Linked DNA regions of Homo sapiens. The protein of the gene in region 4 purifies or fractionates together with the protein of the main gene of each other region. This does not show direct contact. Each region holds a gene or a part of one and is shown on either strand. Other genes may lie near its edges.

What was found.
Region 1: the proteins of ASB18 (region 4) and RBM6 purify together in Homo sapiens (affinity purification with mass spectrometry, with the first as the bait; one large-scale study listed by BioGRID). This does not show direct contact.
Region 2: the proteins of ASB18 (region 4) and AKR1B1 purify together in Homo sapiens (affinity purification with mass spectrometry, with the first as the bait; one large-scale study listed by BioGRID). This does not show direct contact.
Region 3: the proteins of ASB18 (region 4) and PRPSAP1 purify together in Homo sapiens (affinity purification with mass spectrometry, with the first as the bait; one large-scale study listed by BioGRID). This does not show direct contact.

What each region holds. Positions count from the first base shown.
Region 1 is NC_000003.12:50,053,552-50,059,305, reverse strand, and holds part of RBM6 (RNA-binding protein 6), read right to left. Parts: intron 4,972-5,754; coding exon 4,911-4,971; exon of another isoform or gene 4,905-4,910; intron 1,579-4,904; coding exon 1,303-1,578; intron 905-1,302; coding exon 744-904; intron 1-743. UniProt on the Homo sapiens protein: Specifically binds poly(G) RNA homopolymers in vitro.
Region 2 is NC_000007.14:134,440,537-134,446,290, forward strand, and holds the end of AKR1B1 (aldo-keto reductase family 1 member B1), read right to left. Parts: intron 4,785-5,754; coding exon 4,702-4,784; intron 2,235-4,701; coding exon 2,192-2,234; 3' UTR 1,820-2,191; downstream 1-1,819. UniProt on the Homo sapiens protein: Catalyzes the NADPH-dependent reduction of a wide variety of carbonyl-containing compounds to their corresponding alcohols.
Region 3 is NC_000017.11:76,321,961-76,327,714, reverse strand, and holds part of PRPSAP1 (phosphoribosyl pyrophosphate synthase-associated protein 1), read left to right. Parts: intron 1-3,415; exon of another isoform or gene 3,416-3,519; intron 3,520-5,754. UniProt on the Homo sapiens protein: Seems to play a negative regulatory role in 5-phosphoribose 1-diphosphate synthesis.
Region 4 is NC_000002.12:236,211,108-236,216,861, forward strand, and holds part of ASB18 (ankyrin repeat and SOCS box protein 18), read right to left. Parts: exon of another isoform or gene 5,531-5,754; intron 3,760-5,530; coding exon 3,255-3,759; intron 3,119-3,254; exon of another isoform or gene 2,556-3,118; intron 1-2,555. UniProt on the Homo sapiens protein: May be a substrate-recognition component of a SCF-like ECS (Elongin-Cullin-SOCS-box protein) E3 ubiquitin-protein ligase complex which mediates the ubiquitination and subsequent proteasomal degradation of target proteins.

The DNA.
Region 1 (5,754 bases), on a different chromosome or scaffold from region 4:
TTCATTATCTTCACCTTACTTCCATAGAAAAAGGCCCCGCAACTAAAAATTTAAGCCACAGGAATCTATAAATACTTTGAGGAAAAAGAGGAAATGTTTTATCATCAAATATAAAACCATCTGTGGCTGGACAAAATAAATCAGAAAGTTCACTAAAATCATGAAGGATTCAGTACTCAGATTCTTCACAAGCGAGTAAGTTGGAAACAGTAAATGACACAAGAAAAAAATGAACCTAGAAAACCAGACGGGATCCTAACTTTTGAGGGCTGTCACCTGACCTGAATGAACAATAAACCCAAAGGAGAGAGCAAGAGGGATTATGATATCAGGTAGCACACAAGAATTCAAATGATCAAGAAGTCCCTCAAATTTTTTTTTTTTTTTTTTGAGACAGAGTCTCGCTCTGTCACCCAGGCTGAAGTGCAGTGGCGCGATCTCGGCTCACTGCAAGCTCCGCCTCCGGAGTTCACGCCATTCTCCTGCCTCAGCCTCCCGAGTAGCTGCGACTACAGGCGCCTGCCACCACGCCCAGCTAATTTTTCTGTATTTTTTAGTAGAGACAGGGTTTCACCGTGTTAGCCAGGATGGTCTTGATTTCCTGACCTCGTGATCCACCCACCTCGGCCTCCCAAAGTGCTGGGATTACAGGCGTAAGCCACCAGGCCCGGCCCCCAGTCAAACCTTCTTGAAGGTTCTTTAGCCATCTGTCTCTAGGCCAATCCAAGGTGGAGGAAACTCACCGCATGGGAGTCGAGGTCAATAAAGCCATAGGTATGCCCCATAGGGCCTGTTCTGTTCTTGATGATACGGACGTTGGCAGTAGTAAGGCGGACATAGGGCTCCAGCACTTCCACTATCACCTCAGGTGGTGTGGAACGATAGATACGCTTTAGCATGATAGCTGAATCAACCATAAATGGGAGAAGGGCAACACAAGGGAGAGAAAGATAAATTTTTGAAGTCCCAAGAATCTGACTGTCATTTTTTACTATAGATGCTACTAGCAAGGCTGGTTCTGTAAAAAAATGCTAAACAAATAAATACTGCATACTTTTCTTCACCAATACTTAGAAATCTAAAATCATGCCTTACTGCATTCATATAGCAATTTACTATTTGAAGGGCATAGATTCCTTTAAGCAGTACAGGAAGGTCCACAGACAGCAATGGCCTCTGTCATCAGGTCATGCACAGATCTCTCAGGGTACTGGAAAGCAGATAGCTCCCGGACATAACATTGGCCATCTATGCTCCATTGTGATGATCACAGTCTGGTATGTGCCCTGACAAACTACTTACTTTTGCTCTCTCCATCCTGGCGTGTCTCTCCAGACCATGACTCCCTCTCTCGGTCTCTTCGGAAAGTTGGCCCTTCCCTTCGAGAAGGAGGCAGATACCTTTCTGCTTCTCTCTTTTGATGTCCTAAGCGTGACTCTTGGCCTTCTTCCCTCTTCCTGGGTTCAGGTTCCTTATCAGCTGGTCTTAGGGGCTGGTTGGGCTGTTTTTCCAATGGTGCTGGTATGGATGTTTTCTGAGGCTGAGGGTAGGTTATTAATTCTTGCTTGGCCTCTGTCACTAGTGGAACAGAAACAAAGAGAATCTCTAGAAAGCTTTATCAAAAAAAAAAAAAAAGAAAAAACACTGCTACTGTAATTTCTCCTTACCTGCCAGCAAATACTCATACTGGAATGCCTTTTTTTTTTTTTTTTTTTTTTGAGACGGAGTTTTGCTCTTGTTGCCCAGCTGAAGTGCAATGGCATGATCTTGGCTCACTGCAACCTCTGCCTCCCGGGTTCAAGCGATTCTCCTGCCTCAGCCTTCAGAGTAGCTGGGATCACAGGTGCCCACCACCACGCCCAGGTAATTTTTTGTATTTTTAGTAGAAACGAGGTTTCACCATGTTGGCCAGGCTGGTCTCGAACTCCTGACCTCAGGTGATCCACTTGCCTCGGCCTCCCAGAGTGCTGGGATTACAGGTGTGAGCAAACACGCCCGGCCTGGAATGCTTTTAATATTATCTCAGAAATATCTAATAAAAAGTCCTCTGACAGTTCCTGACAAAATATTTTAAGTGAAGCTGAGACAGGACATGAAATAGTTCACAGAAGAAACTATCCAAGCATTTAAAAAATGTAATCTTATGAAATCTCTATATCACCTACTAAACATTTAAATATAACAAATCCTTCATGACACCTTGAACCTGACTATCATAATCAATGATAACAACACATCTGGGGACAAAATTACCGAAGATATGGCCCTTACTTAAGGTTTAGTAGAAACACATATCCCAAACACACATCTAGAAGCCTTGCTTCTTCCAGTGTTACAGTGCTCAAACAGCTACTCATATCCTGTAAGACCACAGGCCCTCCTCCAGTGAAGCTAGGAACAGACCCTATCTGCACGTAGCTCCTTTATATGCAAATAAACATAATGGGCAGACGTCCTTCAAAATATAAATGATTTATTTCAAATGTCCTACTACAGCAGGATAATTTGTCTTTATAGTTTGTTTTATAATTAGGGGCACATTCTTGTAACTAATTCATTCTTGGAGGGTTCACTGGAATCCATGTGGCTCAAAAAGAGGTATTATATGAGAGCAATATAGAGATTACATAATAGCAGTGACAGGTTTCCAGATTAAAGCTGTCTCATCTTAGTGGTATGGTGCCCAGTGGTTTTCATACACTATCTATTCATGGCCGGGAGCGGTGGCTCACGCCTGTAATCCCAGCACATTGGGAGACTGAGGCGGGCAGATCACGAGGTCAGGAGATCGAGACCATCCTGGCTAACACAGTGAAACCCTGTCTCTACTGAAAATACAAAAAATTAGCTGGGCACGGTGGCGGGTGCCTGTAATCCCAGCTACTTGGGAGGCTGAGGCAGGAGAATGGCGTGAACCTGGGAGGCAGAGCTTGCAGTGAGCCGAGATTGCGCCACTGCACTTCAGCCTGGGTGACAGAGCAAGACTCCGTCTCAAAAAAAAAAAGAAAAAAAACAAAAAACTATCTATTCATTTGCTGGAATAGCTTTGAAAAAAAGTGTTTCTTGTGGGGGGAAAAAAACACAACTTTGCCTAACCTGAAGTGACCTAACAAGCAAAAATCTCAGTTGTTCATCCTCCTTCCCACATTTTGGTTTGGTTTCTAGAACATACACAGCCTTCCCCTAAAGATTTTCAGAACACCTGCCTTTCAGTCTTCACCAGAGTAAAATCTCCACAAGAGGACAAAAGCCCACCTAAGAAACTCCTTGTAGGCACATTAAACTCTAACCTTGCAACAAACAGAAGGCTACCTGAATCCCTGCACTGAACTATATTTTATGGTCATGCTGTGGCTTTCCTTAAGGGATGACTACAGGACTGTTGTTATGGATGCATGTGTCTGACTCTTCGAAGTTGCCTACCTGAAATTTCTCTAAAGAAATTTACATTAAAGATAAGTGCTTGAGAAGCTGGTAGTTTTATTCCTCTAAAATAATAAAATGTTCCCCACATCCTGATTATTTTCTCCTATTTATGTTTTTACTGTTATTTTAACAAATGTTTTTCTCTTGAAAATCCTGAAATGCTTACAGAATGTAAAAGAGAAAACAATAGAGCAAATGATTCCCAATAACTTCAAAGAAGTAGGAGTGGGAGAAAGGTTTGCCACACAGACTGATGTCATAAAGACTCTTTTTCAACCTAACATCCTTAATCCTTAAATGTATTCCAAATAACAATATACTGACCTCTGCTCAGCTGCCCACTTAGCCACTTTAGCCTAGGAGCCCACAACCCTATCTCTTTCCTCTGGTGAAAATAAGATCTGAAATCATTTACTAACAGGTTACGTTAAGTTGGGCACCAAACTGCAATTTTTTTTTTCTCACTCTGTTGCCTAGGCTGGAGTGCAGTGGCGAGATCTCAGCTCACTGCAACCTCTGACTCCTGGGTTCAAGCGATTCTAGTGTCTCAGCCTCCCAAGGAGCTGGGATTCCAAGCATGTGCCACCACACCTGTGGCTAATTTTTGTAATTTTAGTAGAGACAGGGTTTCGGCATGTTGGTCAGGCTGGTCTTGAACTCCTGACCACAGGTGATCCACCTGCCTTGGCCTCCCAAAGTGCTGGGATTACAAGCGTTAGCCACCATGCCTAGCTCAAATTGCACTTTTGAAAGGTTTGGGCCGGTCGTGGTGGTTCACGCCTGTAATCGCAGCACTTTGGGAGGCTGAGGCAGACAGATCACGAGGTCAGGAGATCGAGACCATCCTGGCTAACACGGTGAAACTCCGTCTCTACTAAAATACAAATAATTAGCTGGGCATGGTGGTGGGCGCCTATAGTCCCAGCTACTAGAGAGGCTGAGGCAGGAGAACAGCGTGAACCTGGGAGGCGGAGCTTGCAGTGATCCGAGATTGCGCCACTGCACTCCAGCCTGGGTGAGTACGAGACTCTGTCTCAAAAATAAATAAATAAATAAAGGTTTGCAGGCCTTGTGCAGTGATTCACACCTGTAATCCCAGCACTATGGGAGGCCAAGGTGGGTCGGGTCACAAGGTCAGGAGTTCAAGGCCAGCCTGACCAACATGGTGAAACCCCGTCTCTACTAAAAATACAAAAAAATTAGCCGGGCTACAGGGCGTGGTGGCACATGCCTGGAATCCCAGCTAATCAGGAGGCTAGGGCAGGGGAATCGCTTGAACCTGGGAGCTGGAGGTTGCAGTGAGCCAAGATGGTGCCACTGCACTCCAGCCTGGGCAACACAGCGAGACTCCATCTCAAAAAAAAAAAAAAAGGTTTGTAGATCAACTTGGATTTAGGGATGATAATTCTTCAAAGCCAAGGAAAACATGAAATTTGTTTTGCTCAATGCACGAGATAAAAACTGCTACCACTTTCGCCACTCACCTTCTCTTGGGTTCTTGCAGAATGAACAGGAAGATCGGTGCCCACCAATGTTTGCCTTACACTGTAAGGAAGAAGGAAATCAATTTGACTGAAAACATTTTTAAAAATCTTATGTATATCTAACAAAGTGAAACCCCCCAAAAATGAAAGAAACAAGCCATATCCCAGATCCCCTCAAAGCTTAAAAAAAGAATCTGATATTCCCCACTGATTAGAGCTGGCAGATGGGATCTGATGAGCTACTGTTTGAGAGCTACCTTATAACAAGGCATCTGGGACTTTGGTGCAGCCCAAATGCCTTTGCCCTGGATAAAGATTCCTATAGGAAATATGCCTAGAAAACTACTGTTACATGGTTTATAGAATATTATTGTCCCAAAGCCATTTACAGTCTGCACCCAAAACTTGGGCCTGAACTGACTATGAGATCCCCATTCACATTTGGCTAGAACTGAGAATTCAGTTATCAACTCCTTTCTCAAACACTGATAATGAGGTACAAGGTAGGAGGAAGAGATACAGATAGTGTCTCTGGCAGCTATCTAAAAGACATTGAAAGGGAACATTCACTAGCCCAGAATAAGGTAAGAGACATTTTTAATGTGAATGTAATTATTTTTGTCTGAACATGTGAACAAAAAGTCAAGCACACTGCCCAACCCCGAAATCCCTGAACTTTTGCCACTGAGCTTCCAAATGCCATGGGGGCAGAAACTTGGTTGGCAGGAAATAAAAGAGTAAGAACTATAAAGAGGATGGTATTTGAGGAGGGCCTTATAGGGCGAGTAAAGGTCTGCCAGATGGAGTTGAGGAGAAAACAATAACAATAGTAGCAGTGGCTAAT
Region 2 (5,754 bases), on a different chromosome or scaffold from region 4:
TCATGAATGTATGTTGTGCCCCCAACTTCACAGGGGCAAATGTCCCGAGATGGGGCCAGCACCATTGTTCTATAACTGCCACTGACTTTGCCCTCTGAAGGGTGACTTCATTCATCGTGATGAGTCCACCAGAGTCCTGAGGCTGGGCTGGAGTCTGCCCAGGAAGGTGTAGCGGTTTTGATTCCACAAGGGGAAGGAAGAATGGAGCTCTCCATTGGTGAATGAAGCAGCACCTGTCTTGATCCACGGACCTTCTCTCATCCATCCACTCCTTGGATGAATTGTTAGTGGAATGAAGCTGGTTCCACTGAGCTCCACAGCCTCAGCTTCTGCTCCTTAAGCCACACTTTTCAGCATACAAGCAACGGGCCTTACCTGAGCCCAAGCCGCTGACTACTGAAAATACGATTGGAGCTTCAAAATGCAGAACCAGCTGTTCTCCCTGTCATTCGTGGCATGCTTTAATTCTCTTCCTCCTCTTCCACTGCCGGCAAGGCTCCTAAAGGGCAGTCCTTAGAAAAAATCTGAGGGTTCTGCTGGAAAGTAGGGAGGGGAGGTTGCACAGCTTGCCTTTTATCTTGTTTATGCTCCTGGGCTGAGTCTCAAATTGTCATGCTACAATGGTCTATACTAAGCGGAGATCTAAAAGGCAGGTAACCGATTTAAAAACTGTTACCAGTGACTACCTTAAAGTTTTTCCAAAGAGTGTTGAAGCCAACTGGAGAAACAGAGTGGGGATCAGGTCAGATGATTTGACGTAACTTTTGTAACAAAACTAAAATCTACTCTTAATCATCAGAGGGCAACATAAGGTCTGCAGTTTAACAGGTGTGACCTGCCTACTCTGGCAGGGGAAACTGGACCACTGTGATCAGCAGATGCCATGAGGGACCCAGGCCCAAGGCTGCCAGGTAGTAAGGGCAGCCTGTGCAGTGGGGCTCTGGGTTCTCCACCGGGCTCAACCCCAGCCGCAGAGGGGCTAGGTGTGCCCCTCCAGCGCTGGGTGAGGGCCAGGAACCACCACTGCCCAATTAACTATACCTTTAGAGGTGCATCTTAAACACAGATCACCTGCAAAGCAGTTAATGTGACTTGATCATGGGGGTCCTAATTATCCAATAAACAAGGGCAGCCACAAAACAACCTAACTTGATGAACTTTCAAGTCGGCACTTGTCTATTCCATTCCTTTCTTGGCCTTTGTTAACTTAACTCTGGATAAAGAAACGGTAACAAAAAGAAGCAACAGCATTCCGCCTCAAAATCTTTATTTTGTAGCCCTATTTCATCTTCATCCAATTGGAAGCCATTTATTTATGCTTTTCTTTCCTCTTGTCTAGACAACAGGCTTCAGAAAAGCAATTTCTCTCAGGTTGTGCTGCTTAGTAAACACCGACCTCGGCCTTCATACGTAGAAGGAGCAACCAAGGAATCTGTGGAATCGAACATGGGTTTACCCTAAAGCTGTGGCTCAGCCTTGGCTGCACCCTGGAATCACCTGGAGAGCCTGTACACTCCTGCTGTCCTGATCACAGCCCAATCAGATCAGCCTCCAGGGCGAGGTCCAGACATCACCAGCCTTAAAGCCCCCAAAGGTGACCTGGTGTGCAGCCAGGATGAGACCCACAACCCTAAAGCTAAATGGGTAAAGTACTGGGGTGAGGGGCCCCCAACTTGCAGTTGAGGACTTGTAGAAAAGTCAAGTCCTCACTCCTTTTGCATCACTGACTGGCCTGCCTTATGGGTATGTGGAGAGTGATGGTTGAAGTGAGATAGAAGGTTGCTATTGTTTTAAAAAACCAAAGCTCACAAAACCAAGCTCACAAAAGCACTTTTTATTTGAGGCAAAGAGAAGTCTTGCTGAAAGGATTCCAGTTCCAAGCAGTCAAAACTCAACCGTTAGTGGCACTATTTTGACCTGGTAGATTTTGCTTCTCTTTGGTCAGAAAAGGGTATTCAGGTTGTACTTTCCCCAGCAGGGTAGAAAGAAGGGCAAAGCAAACTGGAAGAGACTTCTACTCTACTGACAGGGCTCTTGAGATCCAACATCAAGCTAGACACGCCCTCGCTGGCCACTCTACAGGTTGCTGTCCCACTGCTGAGTGACACAGGCCATACTACATTTGCAAGGAAAAAAATGAGGCAAGAAACACAGGTATAGGTCACTTGGGGACGAGCAGGCAACCACAGCTTCAAAACTCTTCATGGAAGGGGTAATCCTTGTGGGAGGTACAGCTGTCAGGAGAAAGGAGAAAACAGTTGCTTTTTGAAGAGGTGATTTTGACTATACCCAACTCCCAACAGAGAAATGATGTGTCTCACTGAAGAAATAAAATAGAACCTCAGAGGCAACAAGCTAGTTCTGAGTGTGCAGATGATGGTTCTGCAGCTGGGGGAAGCAACTCACCCTCCAGACCCCTCTACCACTACTGTCATCAAGCAGCACATGTGTGAGGGACACCACCCTCCCCATGTGCCCAGCACTGTGCCTGGGCCGTGCAGGACGGCAACACGATTTCTGCCTTCCAGTAACTCAGTCTAGCTGGCAGGACCAGACAGTATTTTGTGGTCTTAAACATCTTGTGTAATAATATGAGAAGGCAGGCCAGACACAGTGGCTCACGCCTGTAATCCCAGGCTGAAGCGAGAGGATCACTTGAGGCTAGGGGTTTGCGACTAGCCTGGGCAACATAGCAAGATTTCCATCTTAATAAAAAAACTTTTTAAATTAACCAGGCATGGTGGTGCATGCCCATGGCCCCAGCTACTTGGGAGGCTGAGGTGGGAGGATCATTTGAGCCCAGGAGGTCAAGGCTGCAGTGAGCTGTGATCATGCCATTACATTCCAGCCTGGGTGACAGAGTAGGAGCCCATTTCAAAAAAAAAAAGGGATGTTAAAAGTCTGTATGTGACTGAATCTCAAAGGATAAGAGAAGCAACGGCAAGTGCTCTGAGGACAGAGGGAGCCTCCTTGTATCAGTGGGGGCTGAAGTGAGCCCAATCAACGGTCGGCGATTTTATATTGGAAACAGGGCAGGGAGCACAGGGCAGGGAGCACATGGCAGGGAGCACAGGTGCAGACGTGTTTGTCAAGGCTCACTCACTGTCCATCTAGTAGGGCCAATGGCTGTGCTAGGAACATAAAGGCAGGAACACTGGACAGATAGCTGGGCAGCTCACGCAAGGCCAGAGTTATGTAATCTGAGCTGGGTGCTTACAGTCTGTAACTCTTATTCAAAAGTTCTCCATGGTCTGCCTTTTTTGTATACCCACAGTGACACTGACATCAGCAGGTCAGGCTCAGTAAAGCATTATCTGCCAGAGGGGTGGTGTGTGTGTAGTTAGCGAAAACTCCCTAGGAGACCTGAGCATGTCAGGGCTAGCCTCTTCCTCCCACTCACCGCCACGCAACAGGATAATCGAACAGAAGTTTCTAGCACAATACTGGAGGGCAGAGGAGCCTAACTGTAAAGGGAGCAATGAGAAAACCACTGTGTTTCCTCAGCCCTGAAAGCTTCAATCCACTCTGTCTCAAGTGGGAGGGGAAAAGGAAGACGGATGAATGGGAGAGATTCTGAAAGGAGAACGAATGTAGCTTGGTGACTGATTCACTCCTCTCCTCCTTGTCCACTAGATCCAAAAATGATTTTAATGTCTAGGGCTAAGTAGCATTAACAGAGATGTCTGAAAGGGCACTGGCCTGGGGCTGCCTGTGACATGCTCTGTTTGCGGCCTATTTTGAGTGTGAGGCCACAGTGTGGCAGCAGCAGGCTTGCCAGGCACGCATATGCCTGAAGCAGGGCCAGAGTTATTGTCCAGGACGCAGACTGGGCAAACATCTGCCTGGGGCGGTGGCTGAAGCCACCAGCAGTGCAAACTCCGGGGAGGGAGATGGGACAGACGCTGGAAAGGGAAAGCTGGTAGCCCACCCCATCTTAGGGAATGTTCACATTTTGCTTAGAAGAGGAAGTACTAAAGGAGAGAGTGTGGAAACACAGAGCTCAGACAAGAATAAGGGTAGTGAGAGAGAAACAGAGTCTCAGTCTCCACTGCAAAATGAGAAGTTCCTTCTTGAAAGCAGAAAGTGAGTTACATGCGTCACCTAGTTATTGTAATGGTAGGAAAAGAGAAAACCCCACAGAAAACCTTCCTAGGCAGCTCCTTCCAAACTACCATGCAGAGGAAACAGAACCAGAGGATGTGTGGCTGGAGGAACTGAGGTGCCTGCTGCTCAGAGGGAGGGCCTGTTTTGGAGCCATGTGGCTTACCAGGTCAGAGCCGGGACTGTCTCAAACCTCAGCCCCAGGGGCTCCCGACCAAACCCCTTTCATTAGGGTCATTAAGACAAAAAGTCACAGGCAAATTCTTCCAGAGTTTGATCCAGGGTCACCTGGGATCACCTAGTTTCAGATGAACTGCTAGGATTTAAAAATTGAATGGAAAGCCAAAATATGTAGTTACTTCAGGCCAGGCCAACAATGCCCCAGGGCTGGAAGAAGATATCAAGAGCGGATCTCTTGGCATCTTGGCTCCATGCAGTTCAGCTGATGCAAGTCACGTGGCTGAGAAAGCAAGGTAATGTGCAAAGCAAGAACAGCTGTGACGAGAGCACATTGGCGCTGAGGCCTGCAGGGATCACTCTCTTGCTGTGCAGCATCTGAATATCTCCTGGGAACTGCTCCTCACACTGGGGCTCACTCACCTCAACAAGGCACAGACCCTCCAGTTCCTGTTGTAGCTGAGTAAGGTGGTCATATCCTGGCTGCTCAGTTCAAAGTCAAAGACCTAAAAAACAAACAAAAAAATCCAGTAAGCTCTGCAAATAAAAATAAAAGACAAAATACTGTGCAGGACCCAGATGTCTTCCATGGCTTTGAGCAGAGAGGAGCGATAAGATAAACTGAACTTAGGAAAAGCTGATATATTAGTATTCAGGAAATGTGCATGTTGGGCTAGATAATATATGGAACGATGGAAACAGTCCTTCCTTTCCAGAACCTCCCAGGGAAATGATACATTTTATTTCATTTCAAAAAACACTACTGAGCACTTCTATTGTGATAAGTTGCAGTGAGGAATATAATTATGGGTAAGATGTGTCTTTGCCTCTATTTTATGAAGCAAACAAAGGGCAGAGGTATTTCTACAACTGTAATACAAATAACTAATCACACACTGTATAAGACACTCAACAGCACAGGAAGGGCAGAGGTATTCCAAAGGGATTCCAGCCGGGAAACTGAACAACCACAGCCGAAGAGGAGATGGTATTTGACATGGCCTAAGAAGTATAAGATTTTGACAGAGAGGGCAAGAAAGGTATACTGGGAGAAGAGAACCACCTGCATGAAGGCAGCAGACGGTACAGAACTCAGCTGGCATGGAGGCTGGGAGGGAGGGAGGCAGGCAGGCACCACTGGGTGAGACCCACAAGAGGCTGACACACACTCCCAGAGCCGAAGGGCTCTTAGCTTCAGATGATCACAGAATGTGCAGAAAGAGAGTCTGCTACAGGCTCTGTGGTTATGATCACAGAAAAATGTGCAAAAGCTATACAGTAAGATGCAAAAATAAAATAATTAGGTTAGCATTTTGAGATTAGTCATTTATTTTTTCTTTCCTAATTCCTTAAAAAATGAAATACGAAACAAACGATGCATCTCTGGTGGGATATGCCTTTCCCTCAGTGGCCACTGTTTTGCCATTTTATCTTGTGTACTTAGAACATCTACCTGCACGTAAGAAGAAAAACGTC
Region 3 (5,754 bases), on a different chromosome or scaffold from region 4:
TGTTGATCAAATACCAGGCTTTGGGGATCAGGTAACTTTTATTTTTACTTATTTATTTATTTTGAGATGGAGTCTCACTCTGTCGCCAGGCTGGAGTGCAGTGGTGCAATCTTGGCTCACTGCAACCTCTTCCTCCCGGGTTCAAGCAATTCTCCTGCCTCAGCCTCTCCAGTGGCTGGGGCTATAGGTGCGCGCCAACACGCCGAGCTAATTTTTGTATTTTTAGTAGAGATGAGCTTTCACCATGTTGGCCAGGATGGTCTCGATCTCTTGACATTGTGATCCGCCTGCCTCAGCCTCCCAAAGTGCTGGGATTACAGGTGTGAGCCACCGTGCCCGGCCTATTTTTATTTATTTTTATTTTGTTTGAGACTGAACTCGTTCTGTCGCCCAGGCTGGAGTGCAGTGGCATGATCTTGGCTCACTGCAGCCTCCGCCTCTTGGGTTCAAGCAGTTCTCCTGTCTCAGCCTCCCAAGTAGCTGTGACTTCAGGCACACACCACCACACCCAGCTAATTTTTGTATTTTTAGTAGAGACAGGGTTTTACCATGTTGGTCAGGCTGGTCTCGAGCTGCTAACCTTAGGTCATCCGCCTGCCTCGACCTCCCAGTGTGCTGGGATTACAGGTGTGAGCCACCGTGCCAAGCCGTAATCTGCATTTTTAGCTTTTTATTTTCAACTGACTTTAGACTTAAAGTTGAAAGAATAGTACAGATTTCCAGCATATGCTCTTCACTCGGAGTCCCCAAATTTAACATTTATATACATGGGGTTTTTTTTTTTCCACCATTTGAGGGTGAGTTGCAGACGTAATGTCCCTTCATTCCTAAATACCTTCGTGTATATTTGTAAAGACAAAAGACTCTTATATAACCAGAGTATCATTATCAGACTCAGGAAGCTAACATTGCTGTAACACTGTAATCTACAGACCTTACTCAGGTTTCACCAGTGGTCCCAGCAGTGTCCTTTAGAGCAAAAGAATAAACTTGTTTTCTTGTTCAAGACCTAACCCAGGGTCACACATTGCATTTAGTTGTCATTTCTTTTTAGTCTCATTTAATCTGGAGTGGCTGCTTTATTCTTTGTTTCTTATGACCTTGATACTTTTGAACAGTGCGATCAAGTGATTTTGTAGACTCTCCCTTAATTGGGGCTTGTTTGTGTCCTCAGGATTAGATTCAGGTTATGCATTTTTGGCAGAAAATCACAGGAAACACATGATGTGTCCCATTACTGGTGATGTGCATTCTGATAAGTTGGTTAAGGTTTCTCTGGCAGGTTTCTCCACTGTAAAGTTACTCTTTTTTTTTTCCTCTTTGTAATTAATACTACCTCATGTTAAGACTATGTTTTAACTGTAAATATTCTGCTTCTCATCAAAATGAACATCTACTGATGATTCTTGCCTGAATCAATTATTGACTGTGATTGTTGTCAGTGTTCATTTTTCTAACTCTATCATTCCTTCTACATTTATTAGTTGACCTTCTAATGCAAGAAAGCTTTCTCTTCTTCCCTATTCATTTCTTCATTTATATCAGTATGGATTCATAGGCCTATTTCATTCAGTGGGTTATAATTCATTGTCGTCACAGGAATACCTTAAATATTGCAGGTTCAGTTCTGCACCATTGCAGTAGGTGAATATTATAATAAAGTGAGTCTCATGAATTTTTTGATGTCCCAGCACATGTAAAAGTTATGTTTATACTGTAGTCTGTTAAATGCTCAATATCATTGTGTCTAAAAACCAATGTACGTACCTTAATTTAAAAATACTTTACTGCTAAAAAATACTAGCAGTTGGCCAGGCGCAATGGCTCAGGCCTGTAATCCCAGCACTTTGGGAGGCTGAGGCGGGCAGATCACGAGGTCAGGAGATCGAGACCGTCCTGACTAACACTGTGAAATCGCGTCTCTACTAAAAAAATGCAAAAAATTAGCCGGGCGTAGTGGCGGGCGCCTGTAGTCCCAGCTACCGGGTGGCTGAGGCAGGAGAATGGCATGGAGGCAGGAGAATGGAGGTGGAGCTTACAGTGAGCTGAAATCGCGCCACTGCACTCCAGCCTGGGTGACAGAGCGAGACTCTGTCTCAAAAAAAAAAAAAAAAAATTAGCAGTCATCTGAGCCTCCATCTTGTTGGTGGAGGGTCTTGCCTCGATGTTGATGGCTGCTGACTGATCAGGGTGGTGGTTGTTGAAAGTTGGGATGGGCTGTGGAAATTTCTTTTCTTTCTTTTTTTTAAGAGATGGGGTCTGTTTCCCAGGTTGGTCTTTTTTTTTTTTTTTTTTTTTTTTTTGAGACTGAGTCTCCTCGCTCTGTCGCCCAGGCTGGAGTGCAGTGGCGCGATCTCAGCTCACTGCAAGCTCCGCCTCCCGGGTTCACGCCATTCTCCTGCCTCAGCCTCCCGAATAGCTGGGACTACAGGCACCCGCTACCACGCCCGGGTAATTTTTTGTATTTTTAGTAGAGACGGCATTTCACCGAGTTAGCCAGGATGGTCTCCATCTCCTGACCTCATGATCCGCCCGCCTCGGCTTCCCAAAGTGCTGGGATTACAGGCGTAAACCACTGTGCCCGGACCCAGGTTGGTCTTGAATTCCTGGCCTCAGGCAATTTTTCTTTTCTTTTTTTTTTTTTTGTTTTGAGACGAGTCTCTCTCTGTCGTCCAGGCTGGAGTGCAGTGGTTCACCCAGTTCACTGCAAGCTCCACCCCCCAGGTTCACACCATTCTCCTGCCGCAGCCTCCCAAGTAGCTGGGACTACAGGTGCCTGCCACCACACCTGGCTAATTTTTTTTTTTTTGTATTTTTAGTAGAGATGGGGTTTCACCATGTTAGCCAGGATGGTCTCGATCTCCTGACCTCATGATCCGCCCGCCTTGGCCTCCCAAAGTGCTGGGATTACAGGAGTGAGCCACTGCACCCTGCCAGCCTCAGGCAATTTTTATACCTCAGCCTCCTGAGTAGCTGGGATTACAGGCAAGAGTGATTGTGCTCAGCTGTGGCAATTTCTTAAAACAACGAAGTTTGCCTCGTTGATTGACTCTTCCTTTCACAAAAGATCTTTCTGTAGCATGTAATGCTGTTTTATAGCTTTTTTTTTTTTGAGATGGAGTTTTCGCTCTTGTTGCCCAGGCTGGAGTGCAGTGGTGCAGTCTTGGCTCACTGCAACTTCCACCTCCTGGATTTAAGTGATTCTCCTGCCTCGGCCTCCCTAAGTAGCTGGGATTATAGGTATGCATCACCACACCTGGCTAATTTTTTTTGTATTTAGTAGAGACAGGGTTTCACCATGTTGGTCAGGCTGGTCTGGAACTCCTGACCTCAGATGATCCACCCGCCTTAGCCTCCCAAAGTGCTGGGATTACAGGCGTGAGCCACTGCGCCCGGCTGACAGCATTTTTTAAAATGTCAGCCAGGTGATGTACTGATGTTCTAACAAGGTTCAAGGATGGCACATCTCACATGTAAGCGTGAACACCCAATGATCACACTTATGAACTACAAAATGATCTGTTTGATAGCATTTTACCTAGAAGAAAGAACTACTTTCTTTTTTTTTTTTTTTGAGACAGTCTCACTCTGTTGCCCAGGCTGGAGTGCAGTGGCACCATCTCGGCTCCCTGCAACTTCTGCCTCCTGGGTCCAAGCAATTCTGCCTCAGCTTCCCGAGTAGCTGGGATTACAGATGTGTGCCACCACACCCGCCTAATTTTTGTATTATTAGTAGAGACAGGGTTTTACCATGTCAGCCACGCTGGTCTCGAACTCCTGACCTCAGGTGATCTGCCCGCCTCGGCCTCCAAAAGTGCTGGGATTACAGGCGTGAGCCACTGCGCCCAGCCGAAAGAACTACTTTCAAAATTGTAGTCACTGTTCTCAAACCCTGCCACTGTGTTATCAAATAATTTTTGTAATACTTCTAAATCCTTGTTTTCATTTCAGCAGAGTTCACAGCATCTTCAGCAGTAGATTCATCTCAAAAAAAAAAACAAAAAACCTTCTTTGCTTATCTATCAAAGCAACTCCTTATCCATTACAGTTTTATCATAAGATTGAAGCAGCCCAGTCACAGCTTCAGGTTCCAGTTCTAATTCTAGTTCTTTTGCTCTTTCCACCACATCTGCAGTTACTTCTACCATGGAGGCCCTGAACTCCTCAGAGTCATCCATGAGGGTTAGAATCAACTTCTTCCAAACTCCTGTTAATGTTGATATTTTGGCCTCCTCCCATGAATCACGCGTGTTCTTCATGGCATCTAGAATGGTGCATCCTTTCCAGAGATTTTCAGTTTACTTTGGGTCCTTCAGAGGAATCACTATCTATGGCATCTATAGTCTTATAAAATGTATTTCTTTTTTTTTTTTGATACAGAGTCTTGCTCTGTCACCCAGGCTGGAGTGCAGTGGCGCAATCTCGGCTCAGTGCAACCTCTGCTTTCCAGGTTCAGGTGATTCTCGTGCCTCATTCTCTCGAGTTTCTGGGATTGCAGGTGTGCACCACCACGCCCAGCTAATTTTTGTATTTTTAATAGAGACAGGGTTTCACCATGTTGGCCAGGCTGATCTCAAACTCCTGACCTCAGGTGATCTGCGTGCTTCAGCCTCCCAAAGTGCTGGGATTATAGGTGTGAGCCACCACGCCCAGCCAAATGTATTTCTTTTTATTTTATTTTAGAGGCGGGGTCTCTGTCTGCTGTCCAGGCTGGAGTACAGTGACAGGATCTCCCTCTCTCACCCAGACCTGCAGTGCAGTGGTGCGATCACTGCTCACTGCAGCCTCTACCACCTGGGCTCAGGTGATCCTCCCACCTCAGCCTCCTGAGTAGCTTGGAAGCTGGGACCACAGGTACGTGCCACCACACCTGACTAATTTTTGTATTTTTTGTGGAGACGGAGTTTTGCCATGTTGCCCAGGCTGGTCATGAACTCCTGGGCTCAAGCAGTCAACCCATCTTGGCCTCCCGAAGTGCTAGGATTAGAGGTATGAGCCACTGTGCCCAAGCACCCAGCTAATTTTTAGAAATTTTTAGTAGAGACAGGGTCTTGTCTTGTTGTCCAGGCTGGTATCAAATTCATTGGCTCAAGTAATCCTCCCGCCTCAGCCTGTATTCTTGACAGTTTGGGAGGGTGAGGTGGGAGGATCACCTTATTGTTATTACTCTTAATAATAAGACTTGGAAGTTGAAATTACTCCTTGTTCAATGGGCTGCAGAATGGATGTTGTATTAGCGGGCATGAAAACATCACTAATCTCCTTGTGTATCTCCATCAGAGCTGTCGAAAGACTGTTGTTTGATAAATATATTTTTTTGAGATGGAGTCTTGCTCTGTCGCCCAGGCTGGAGTGCAATGGCACGATCTCGGCTTAGTGCAATCTTCACCTCCTGGGTTCAAGCGATTCTCCTGCCTCAGCTTCCCGAGTAGCTGGGATTACAGGCGTACACCACCACGCCTGGCTAATTTAGTATTTTTAGTAGAGATGAGGTTTCACCATGTTGGTCGGGCTGGTCACGAACTCCTGACCTCAAATGATCTAACTGCCTCAGCCTCCCAAAGTGCTGGGATTACAGGTGTGAACTACTGCGCCCGGCCTGTTGTTTGATATTGTTTGAACTTTTATCAATTATCTTAGTTAGATCTTCGGAGTAACTTATTGCAGCTTCTACATGAGCACTTACTGCTTCACCTTGCACTCTTAGGTCACGGAAACGGCTTCTTTCCTTAAACTTCATGAAAAAGCCTTGCT
Region 4 (5,754 bases):
AAGTCACCTGTGGCAGATGCCAAACAAGTTCAGGTCCACGTCTGTGTGTGCTTCTCTGCCTTCCTACCTGCTGTCCAACAGGCCCAGCCCCAGCCTGCCCTGACATCTTCCAGAATCCAAACCTGCCAGAATCCACAGCCTGCCCCCTATGCCTGCCCTCGGTGCCCTGTCCCTGCCCCCAGTGTTAACTAGCGGTCAGCCAGGCAGAAAGGCCTGGCACTGTCAACACGTGGGCTTCCGAAGCCGTGACACTACTTTGATTCTCACTGCAGAGCACTGCGCCGGCTCGGAAGGATGCCCTGTGTCCGCCTGCCGCGACGATGGTGCCTTTGTCTGGGCATGGGGAGCTGTGATTTATGTCATAAGCTCGCTGTGAAACCTTTTGCCTCGGTAATTCTGCGCTCCATGGGTGTCTCTTTACATCTATTCACAGTACGGCTGCTGCCCACGGACGGCTTGCCCTGTGACAGTGCTGGTGACTCTACGCTCGGCTCGCCATGGCGCCCGTGTGGTGCCTGCCCAGCATCTTTGTGGCTGGCTGCAGCGTCTGTTGCTTTGATGTCGCACATGATTAGATGCCGTCCCTGGAGGAGCGATTGCAGGGAGACTGGGTGGAGGAAGAGGCTGCCTCTAGCTTTCCACAGAGTTTTGCTTCGGTTGTGGGGACCAAGCTAGAACATTACAGGCACTGCTGCCTTTGCTTGTGGGATTCTCAGCATGGTGAATGCATCCTCATCCACCATCCTCTCCTGGCCAGGTGTAGGGGTACCCACTGGAGGTGTGGGGGAATCCCAGTGCAAAAAGGTGGAATCCTTATTTCCAAAGATTTAATGCAGGCCATGAGCCTGCAGTGGCTGGAATCCCTTTCATTCATTCAACAAACACTGATGGAAGGTCTGTGCTTGCAGGCGCCATGTTCAGGGAGGCAGCGGTGGGCAACGCTTTTTGCAAAAGCCTCAAGGTATTAAGATTTCTCAAGAAAACTCCAATTCCTTCCAGGATGGGTGGGAACTGACAAGATTCCTTGTCAAGCACTTCCCATGGCTTTTTGGCCCCCAGGTACAACAAATCTAAACCTACCCCCAACCTGAATGGAGGATGAGTTGCACCACTGACTGACCCCATTTCTGTGTGGCTGACATAGTACTGGGGATCCCATCCCAGAACAGGGCCCCTGAGCACCTAGAGAGGAGGTGCTGTGCTTTGTCCTGCATCTCTAGTCAAGGCAGTGTAATTTCTACAGCCTTGGAAACAGAGTCCAGGGGTCAGAGGTCCTGTTCCTAGAAATGATGCCTGTGGGGCTGCCCCTAGGATTTGAAAGCCTGGTCAGAGATCACTCAAATTGAAACAATTTCAAGGCTAACAAAGGATTATTTCTAGTCGCTACTGAAATATATTGACTCCTTTTTTTTTCTTTAAAATAAATTGCCCCATTCTTCCCTGAATAAGTAAGTCAGAAAAAAATAATTGGCCCAGATATTTTCCCCTTTTGGCCCATCCTGTAACTTTGTTTTCTCTTTTCATTCCTTTTTTTGGAGACAGGGTCTTGCTCTATCACCCAGGCTGGAGTGTAGTGTTGCTATCACAGCTCACTGCAGCCTCCACATCCTGGGTTTAGGTAATCCTCCTGCCTCAGCCTCCTGAGTAGCTGGGACTACAGGTGCATGCCACCAGGCCCTGCTAATTTTTTTAAAAAAATTTTTGTAGAGATAGGATCTTGCTATGTTGCCCAGGCTGGTCTTAAACTCCTGGACTCAAGTGATCCTCCTGCCTCAGCCTCCCAAAGTGCTGGGATTACAGGTGTGAGTCACCATGCCTGGCCTCTTTTCATTCTTTATGCAGTTGCATATGACAAGGGCTGAAGTGTGTGTTGGTTTAATGCAGACACAGTGTGCATGGGAAGGGCAGTGAGTCTTGTTTCCATGTTATAAGTTGATGAACTAAGCCTGCTAATGATGGGAAACATTAAAATGTAAATTATAAATATAAAAGGTAGCTGTCACAGAACATAAAAATGCTAGCATTTCTTCCCTTTCAGGAGTCCACTATATTGAAATCATTGCCTTAGTGGAGCACCACAAGACAATTACCCAAAGAGGGGGTGAGACAGCATCGGGAAAGTGCCATCCTGTTTGTCAAGTGAGCAAACACTAGGGGAGTTGTCTCGGGGGATTTTCTAACCTTTCAGAGGCACAGTCTACTCTGAACGCATCTATAATGGAAAGTTAGCATTTGAGAGAAATGAGTGAATCTCACTTCTCGATGGTTCAGACCACTGAGAACACTGTACTTTTGAATATTAGCTTTTCAGCTATTTGTTCAAAACTAATCAGGCCAAAATATGTCTTATGTCTATGAGTGATGAGTCTTGGTTGATGGAGATAATTTTTAAATTAAACACACCCGGATTTTACATCTAATGGAATGACTTCCCTTCAATGAAGTCTTTTCGGGAGGACAACCTGTTACTCCAGCCAATATTTTGGAAACATTTTCAGTCTTTTGGGTTATTTTCTGAGGTGAGAAATCTTTATTCTTTATCATTATTATTTCAGGGTAGATCTGACGGGTGGAACAAGGATGAGTTGTTCAGAGTCAAGTCTGCAAGGGTGAGCCAGCAGAATGGGGGTGAGGTCCCAACACTGCAATGACCTGGGCAGGGCACTTCACCTGACCGAACCCCAGGTAGAGGGAGAATATCACCTGCCTCTCGTGTTTCACTGCAATGTGGTGAGGACCGAATGAGAGAAGTCTGCAAATGTACGAAGCACTCTCATTAACAAGGTGGATGATCAGATTGGGTAATTTTGTTTCAGATCAAATGCCAGATGTGGCAAAAGACTGATTTTCATCGTTCTGAAAATGACACTGATGATGAGCTGCCAAAATATTTTGAGCTCTGACTGCATCATCGAAATAAGTGCCTGGCGTCCGTCCCCAGGTGACTACTTTGAAAGGATGCATTCTTCACATGCAACCCCTTAATTGTCTCGTGGCTCTAACCAGAAGGCTTCTAGGCCCCTGTTCCTCAAAATGGGGTCCCAGGAACAGCAGTCTAGGCCACACCCGGGAGCTTGTTGGCAATGCAGGCTCTCCCACCCCAGACCGGCAGAGCAGATTCTGCATTTTCACAAGTCCCCAGGGGTGCCTGGGCCATTACACTTTGAGAGCGCCGCATGCAACCCAGCTCCCAGGCCGGTCACTAAGTGGCAAAACTCCAGGGCACGTGCCAGCCGGGCTGGATCCTGCCTTACCTTGGGGAAGGCGTCGGGCCACACGGTGGGAGAGCCGTGGTTGAGCAGCGCCTGCACCGTGCGCTGCGGTGAGGCCTGGAGAGCGCAGGATGCGGTCTGGAGCACGCGGCCCAGCGGCGAGGCCCCGCCATAGTCGAGCGCGCCCGCGTCGGCGCCGTGCCGCAGTAGGAGGCGCGCCAGGCTGTGGCTCGCGTGGCCGCAGGCTTTGTGCAGCGGGCTGCGCTCGTCCTCGTCGCGCGCGTCCGCCTCCGCCCCGCGCCGCAGCAGCAGCGCGCACAGGCGCAGGCAGCGCCCGTGCTCGTCGGGCCTCCGCGCCGCACCGCAGGCCGCGCTCAGAGCCGTCTCTCCGCGGCCGTTCCTCGCGTCCACGTGCGCCCCGCGGCCCAGGTACAGGCGCGCGTGCTCGTCCAGGCCGCGCTGCGCCGCCACGTGCAGCGGCGTGTCCCGGCCCGTGCCGCCCACGCGCTGCACCGAGGCCCCGTGCTCCAGCAGCGCCTGCGCGCACCTGTGGGAAGCCAGGGCCTGTCACTCGGGCGCCACGCAGGACGCCCGCACCCTTCCACCCCCGGCCTGCTGCTGCAAAATATCAAGTGACCTCTGAATGAAAAGACATGCTCCGCTCTCCCATACCAAGGCGTCAGGAGTTCAAACTAAACTGGAAAAAAAAAAAAAAAAAAAGAGATTATGGCAAAACCAGCTCCTGAGTGGTGTAAATAGCAAAGGATATGCCATAAGAATCCACGTGCAGAGTTACAATTTATAAGGAAATTTTAACTGCTTGGAGCTTCCTGGGAAGGTGATGTGGTTCAAATGACGGTGCTCCATGCACTGGTTACCTGAGCTCTTTGTCACACCTGGAGGTTAAGGGTTTGGCAGTCACAGTTCTAAGGAGAGGCCCTTGGGGGTCAGACTCTTTCCCGGCCCCCATCTAGCCCTTCTGGAAACCGCTCAGCTTTGTGAGGGTGTGAGGCAAGCCTTGCCTTGCACCACGAAGGGACTTTCCCCATCCCTCAGGACACTGACTCAGGCTGGCACCACCCTGTCCTCTGACAGTCCGGGGAGCATTAGGTGGGAAGCACAACCAGGCCCTGTTGTGAGCCTACCTGTGCTGCTTGAACAGACTGGATATTGGCTGCACCTGAATTCCCCAGTGGTCTCCAGGAGCTTCTAGACCCCCATGGGAGCCTGCGGTCTTCCCCAGAGACGAGTGTCTTCCTTCTGCTGCCTCCAGGAGCATGACTGTCCTCTACCCCAGGCACCAGGCTTCCTCAGAGCCTCTCCCATCCCCTGGGGGCACTCTAAACAGCTCAGCCTAGGCTCAGATGCCTGGTGAGAAGTGTGCCCCAGCCTGGAAGCCGGAAGACAGTCATACAGACCCTCTGCCCTCCGCTGGTCCTTGTCCTTCATGGACACGGAAAAACACAAGCCCACCCCCAACTTCAGCCACCTGCTCCCATAGTCACCTGCCATCGATAAGGCCGCTCCAGCCTTGGAAGTCTGCAAACATGCCGACTTCAGACTACAGCCCTAGTCCTCTAGCTCCCCAATGCCTGTTGGTCCTACTTGCCATCTTTGCTCTATGGAGACCTGAGCCCTGGACCTCTCGTTTCTCTCTACCCTTCCTGGCTTCAGTTCCTTTCCTGGGCAGCACTGTGGTCACCTCGTCATCTGCATCCTCAGTTCCCTTGAATGGAGGGGACCATGGCCATCCCCTACTCAAATGGCCGAATCTTCAAGCCGGAGTCCATTCTTCACCCCCCTCCTTTTCTCTGCGGGTCTGCCGAGCCCTGTTGGAGGACGCAGCCTTCATGGAGCTGGCCTTGGTCTCAGCTGGGCCTCAGTTAACTGATATCTTTCAGTGTTAAGGCCACCTCCTCATGCCTTGCTCTCCACTAACCACTCCTAATGTTGACCTTGGTCCTCAAGCTTCCGCCCTCTTCCTTTTCAGCTGTCTACATCAGCTTCATTCAGGGTGCAGCTCCCAGGAACTCCCTCACCTGCCTGCCTTCTGCAAACACATCTGTTTCAACACTGATTAGAATCTGTTTTGACAACAGCTGTTGCCTCCCTCTTCCCCAGGCCTAAGGAAGGCACTCCCTCTTGATCATCTTGGCCCAGAGTTAGTCGTCTTTGGCTTATTTGGGGTCTTGCTCTAGATGACTTGCTTCTTGCCATTTTCCTGTCTTTCTATTTCCCTGCCCCATTTCAACTGGTCACTGAGCCATCTCATCACCTGAACTGCTTCCTCCCTCCACTCCCAGTGTCACTGTCCTTTGTTGAGGCCACATCGTTTCTCGGAATGCTTATAAGTCTCTTCATTTGCCCCTTGCTGCAATCTAGCAAACTGCATACTATCTGGAAAGAGCCTTTCCAGTGCCAATCAAATGTGCCTGCCAACAACCCCACCACTCCCCCTGCCTGCTGGGCGAAGCCCACACTGCTCTCTTCAGGACCCAGGACACATCATGATCCAGCTCCTGGGGGCTCACCGGGTTCACCT